Linked DNA regions of Homo sapiens: region 1 is linked to region 2. The links come from fine-mapping of genetic effects on gene expression. A gene starts in region 2. The other region holds a variant in brackets. All regions are shown on one strand. Distances are from middle to middle.

Region 1 (2,917 bases), 850 kb after region 2:
GCCACACTGGGGCTCAATTCCTCCCTGGTGTCTGAAGTCTGCCTTTACCTTAAGCACTAATGGGCATTTAAGAAACTCTAGTCTACATGCCTTGCACACACAGCTTGAACAGGATGCTACCCTTGTTGCTTGTGTCAGCCTAAACTTAACTTCAGCATGATACACTGGACTTCCACTTGGTGCCCTTTTGCCTCCATTTTGGTGTTCTCAGATCAGATATATCCTGGCTCCCTCCATACTGGAGCCCTGTGGCCATCTCCCTGTCCTTCAGGTCTGAGAACTCTCATTTTCCCAGACTAGCAGAATACCCTGAGGCAAGTGTTTTGCTGGATTATAAAATATATTTTCTAGGATCTGAATGTTTGTGTTTCCTCAAAATTCGTATGTTGAAACCTAATTAGGTAATGGGATTAGTGCCTTTATGAAAGAGGCCCCAGAGAGCTGCCTTGCCCCTTCCAGCATTGTGGGGACACAGCTAGAAGGTGTCATCTGTGAACTAGGAAATGTAGTTCAACAAACCATGGCTGTTGCTATCATTACCTTTTAAAATTTCCACATGGTACCTATACTTGTGGCTGTCCTTCAAAGGTCTGAGCCATAACATGGGAGGTTTAGTTTGTTCATTCATTAATTCATTCAATCTGCTGTACTCTAGGCACTGTTCTAGGCATTAGATCTAAGTTTGTGCTTTCCTCACTGGGTTCCATCTTGGTATAGGTAAGTGATTCATGTCCAACTATGCCTCAAAATAGGAGACATGGGAGAGGTAATATAGTACAGTGGGTAAGGAAGCTGGCTTTGACATTACACAGGTGAAGTTTGAACACAAGCCTTTCTACTGGGCAGCTGAATAAGGTAAATAAGTTTTCTATACCTGAAATTTTCTTATCTGAAAAATAGAGACAATTATACTATCTATCTCCTAGGGTTGCTGTGAAGTTTAAGTGGATACTTTTAGTGTGCTTAGATTAGCACCTGGTCCATAAATGCTCAATCAATGTTAGCTATAATTAAGGTTTTAAGGTTTAAGCTCAGGGGTCTGAGGCCTGATAGTTTAGACTTTCAACCTGGTTACCAATTCCAATGTTAAAAAACAATTAAAATTCTGATTCTTTTATAGAGAGAAGACTATTTCTTTTAAATTATATTTTACCTCTAAATGAATTT[AATTTT/T]TCTCCCATCCTTCCTCTTTGGGAAATATTATTGGAACCAAATTTTGTGGTATAAATCAGAATAATTTTGTGGCCTAGATCCTTGATTTTATGGAGAATTCTTGAAGAGTTTCATTGGAATTGTCTATGTATTTAGCTTCAGATGGAAAGCTGAAATTACTCATCAAAGGATTGCAATAAGAGTGATTTGAACCACAAGTATATCAGAACTTCAGGCTTCTCTAAGACAAGAAAATAACTGACAGATGAACTGCAGAAAAAGAAATGGGGTGACTTATTTAGACTGAGATGGTCATGTAGGCTGTATAAAAAAGAAGAGTCAGATAACAGGCTTGTCAAACTAGCTAATTGCACCTGCAAACAAAGGACATAGTTTAAAGCATGGGTTTTAGAAAGGAATGCTAGTCTCTCATTTGTATTTTCAGCTGGATCTGCATACATGGGTAGGATCACCACAATTGACGATGTCATCTTTGAATAGGGAGGAATAGAGACTCACACAGAGCTTGCACCAGGGAGATTCTACACACAGATGAACAATTCATTAGCCATTCAGAGCTGAAAGCTGCCGCCTAACTTTGCTCTGTATGCTGAAAACAATGCAATGATCAAAAAAGAAAAAAAAAAAAAGAAAATAGAATCAAGGCAGTAAGGTAACCCTTTAGGAAGTGATGGGAGTGTTACATCAACATATTGTCAAGATCCAGATAAATCTGAATATCTACACAGTACTTTCTATCCTATGAGATTTGAAACTTAGACTTCATTTCAGATTTGCGAACAGTGTTACCTAGTTCCCATTCTAAAATTACTAAATCTACAAAACATGCTTCAACCCTTTCTCCTTCAACTTTTTTTTTTAAATGTTTCTCTTTTTAAAAATATGTATTTTTAAAAAATATATTTTTATATATGTATTTTTTGAGACAGGGTCTTGCTCTGTCACCCAGGCTGGAGTGCAGTGGTGCAAACATAGCTCGCTGCAGCCTCAACTTCCTGGGTTCAGGTGATCCTTCCATCTCAGCTTCCTGAGTAGATGGCACAACAGGCACATGCCACCAAGCCTGGCTAATTTTTGTATTTTTGGTAGAGAGAGTTTCACCACGTTGCCTAGGCTGGTTTCAAACTCCTGAGCTCAAGCAATCCACCTTGGCTTCCTGAAGTGCTGGGATTACAGGTGGGAGCCACCGTGCCCTGCCATCAGTGTATTTTTTTTTCTGAAATTTTATAATAAGTTATCACAAATTATGATAAATTGCATTTTCCCAAAGATTAAATTAACAAACTTCCCTTGAGCACTTCTTTTCTTTTTTTTTTTTTTTTTTTTTAATTTTTTTTAAATTATACTTTAAGTTTTAGGGTACATGTGCACATTGTTCAGGTTAGTTACATGTGTATACATGTGCCATGCTGGTGCGCTGCACCCACTAACTCGTCATCTAGCATTAGGTATATCTCCCAATGCTATCTCTCCCCCCTCCCCCGACCCCACCACAGTCCCCAGAGTGTGATATTCCCCTTCCTGTGTCCATGTGATCTCATTGTTCAATTCCCACCTATGAGTGAGAATATGCGGTGTTTGGTTTTTTGTTCTTGAGATAGTTTACTGAGAATGATGATTTCCAATTTCATCCATGTCCCTACAAACCACATGAACTCATCATTTTTTATGGCTGCATAGTATTCCATGGTGTATATGTGCCACATTTTCTTAATCCAGTCTATCATTGTTGGACATTTGGGTT
Region 2 (2,917 bases):
GAAAGCTGTATTCTCCAGGAAATCCCTTCCATATTTGCATAACCAATCCCTTCAGAGCAAAGGTGGAGTCTTTTCTTTTTAATCTTACTTTAATTGTAATATCAAAAAATATATACTCCAAAACTTAGACCCCATGCCGTTTAATATCATGCTCTCCCTTCCCTGCTAAGTTTCTCTATGGCCTTTCTCGTTTCTCCTCCTGCCTCCCTACACACTCTCCCTTACTTTGTAGTGAGGTCTCCCCGAGGTGTAGAGAGATTCAGAGATCGGCCAACCGAGTGTTCTATTTTAATTTACTTAGAGACCCTTTATTAAAATGCCAAACTACTTTTTAATATTGGGATCCAGTCCAGAAATTCATCATGCACACACCCTAATACACATGCCCTAAGATGCAGCTCCCATGCAGCATTTTTTTTTCTGGCTCTGGTACCTAAAAAGAAAAAAATAACAATAAGAGAAAGGGCAGAGAACTTTGTTCCAGAAGCTGTACTGAGATACCTACACAATTTGATGTGCATCTCAAATCTGGTCATTAGAGATATCTGTATAAGAAGAGACTATCTGGATTGAGGACCCGGGATCTTTCCCTTTAACTTTCGCCCCTTGGAGTTCTCCAGTTCTGTGAATGGTGTGCACCGTTTTCCGCCCTGTACTCTGTAGGATTTAGTGATGAGGATAATGATGCCAAAGGCTTGACGGGCGGGGAGGGGGGGGTGGAGGGGGGGAGAAGGGAGGGAGGGGGGAGGGAGGCGAAGGCGAAAGGGAGGGAGAGGAGGAAGGGAGGGAGGTGGAATTTCATTTCTTCCACTAAAGCGTTTGCGGAGACTTCAAGGTATAATCTATCCCAGATCCTTTCCCAGAGAGAAACTTGGCGATCACGTTTTCACATGATGCTCACGCTCAGGGCGCTTCAATTATCCCTCCCCACAAAGATAGGTGGCGCGTGTTTCAGGGTCTCTCGTCTCTCTCCTACAGAAAAGAAAAAGAAAAAAATGTCATTAGAAGAGGCGTAACACGTCAGTCCGTCCCCAGGTTTGTGTTTCCTGGAGTGGCCGAAAGAGATCAGTTCTAACCTGCTCTGCAGGAATAACGGTCCTGCCTCCCGACACTCTTGGCGAGGTTTTTGTACAGTTTGCTCCGGGAGCTGTTTCTTCGCTTCCACCTTTTTCTCCCCCACACTTCGCGGCTTCTTCATGCTTTTTCTTCTCACCATTTCTGGCCAAAACTACAAACAAGACTTCGCAGGTAGGTTTTTTTTCCTCCCCTTTTCTCTCTTTTTATCCCTTTTTGGTGTGCTCGTCCTCCATCCTCCTTTTCTAATTTTCTCATTTTGAGTGGGGATGTGAGTCTGAAGTGAGAAGGGGTGTCCGTGGGTAGGAATTTCAGGTGGGTTTAGCTCCTTTATGGCAAGCTTTTCTCAAGAGTGGCTTCTTCGCTTTCTCTTACACTCACACTCTCTCTCCTTGCTTTTCTCTCCTTTTTCCCTCCCCCAAATAATTTCCCCTGTACCTGTTCATTCAGGTAACCAAAGGTGTCCTTTGCTATCCAGCCCAGGAAAAGTTTTATTGAGAATTATATGGCTGGAATAAAAACTCATCAAGGGGAGAGGTCCTGCTCTATTTTCGCATCTAGTTCCAATTCATTATATTCAGCAATTAGGACTTGGCAAATACCTGTTAATAATTACAAAACTTGGTCAGTTACAGACCTACAAATTCGGGGGCAAGTCTTTCTCTTAGACATGGCAGTTCATCCTCTCCCACCGAGAAGGCTGTTTTCTAAGCAGAAAGTTGTCTGTTTTTGTCTGCTTAGCGAGTTTCATTTCTTTATTTCATTCTTTGTGTGTGTATGTGTGTGAAGTAACACCTCACTTCTGTGATTATAAATAAAGAAGTGAAAGTCCTCATGGAACTTGAGTCGTTTACCAAAGTGGAGGGGGGGGCACTACAGCTGGGAAGAAAACTGCTGTCAGGATATCAGGGTTTTAAATTAGGATAACTTTTAAAATTGTATTTTTAGTGGCAAAGTAATATAGACATGGATTTAATAGAAGACACATACACACATATATCCCATTCCATACTTTGGCACTGAAAAGTCGAGAGAGAGATAGCAGGAGTTCCCAGGAACAGTGATGAGCCCGGCTAACATGAATGTGTTTATCTCCCACCTACTGATATATTTTACATGCTCCCCCTGTAATGATGAAGGCAAGATTACTAACTCCAGACTTAGGAGTAACAGGCAAAGATAAAGTTTACAGCACAAATGCCCTGTCTCTCTCTCTCACACACACACATGCCCATAAAACTAGCAACTTACTTTATTAAACATGTATTTATATGCAGTCGTGTGTCTCAGGATGAATATAGACAGGCCAGCTGTTTCATCCCAGACACTTGTGTGACCATTTCTTTATTTCAGGATTTCCCCTAACAATTTCAAATCAATAGGACAAGGAAAGAAATGATAAAATATGTCAAACTTAAAAGTCTCCTACTATGTATGCCTAGGTAAATTTAAGGTGCTTTCTAAAATATCCACTTCCCCTTCTCTCTGCCCCCCTCCCTTCACCCCTCTCAGCAAATGTGTGGAAACTGATACTCACTTTCCAGGTTTTCTGCAAAGCTTCTAGCACAGGAGACAATAGGTGTGGGGCGTGGGGACTGAGTGTGCCCGGCAGAGAAAGGGTTAATGGCCCTTGTGTTACAGTTTGCATCTGTTACATCTTTTATAGCCCCCTGTTTAAACTAATCCTCGAGGCACAGCATCTTCCCAACCTCCACCGAGTTTTCAGGATTCTCCTCCTCTCCTGCCTGCCTCCGAGGTCCCCCTTCTCCAAGTTTTGACAGTTTCAACTGAAAAAATGCAGCGCCTCTCTCGATTTTTAGGTACAAAAGTTTCGAAGCCAGAA

Alleles and levels. Alleles are on the strand shown, and positions count from the first base shown. SD is a standard deviation of normalised expression in the study named.
In carriers of allele AATTTT in region 1, the expression in tibial nerve of the gene that starts at base 1,573 in region 2 tends to be higher than with T alone (moderate effect, 0.47 SD a copy in GTEx).

What was found. PIP is the estimated chance that this variant, and not a neighbour inherited with it, causes the effect.
Region 1: its variant is the best candidate, but not a certain one, in a credible set for the expression of ZEB2-AS1 in tibial nerve (GTEx, PIP 0.59).

What each region holds. Positions count from the first base shown.
Region 1 is chr2:143,667,166-143,670,082 of GRCh38, reverse strand. All of the region lies in intron 12 of ARHGAP15 (Rho GTPase activating protein 15), which reads right to left. The region is part of intron 4 of ARHGAP15-AS1 (ARHGAP15 antisense RNA 1); the gene reads left to right. Among named protein-coding and RNA genes, the nearest start is that of ARHGAP15-AS1, 110 kb to the left of the region's middle. The variant AATTTT/T (reference allele first, on the strand shown) is at 1,168.
Region 2 is chr2:144,518,270-144,521,186 of GRCh38, reverse strand. ZEB2-AS1 (ZEB2 antisense RNA 1) reads right to left here and starts at 1,573. Exons shown (of 4, transcript NR_040248.2): 1 at 1,513-1,573; 2 at 1,077-1,228; 3 at 902-972; 4 at 288-433. ZEB2 (zinc finger E-box binding homeobox 2) reads left to right here and starts at 1,068. Exons shown (of 10, transcript NM_014795.4): 1 at 1,068-1,248.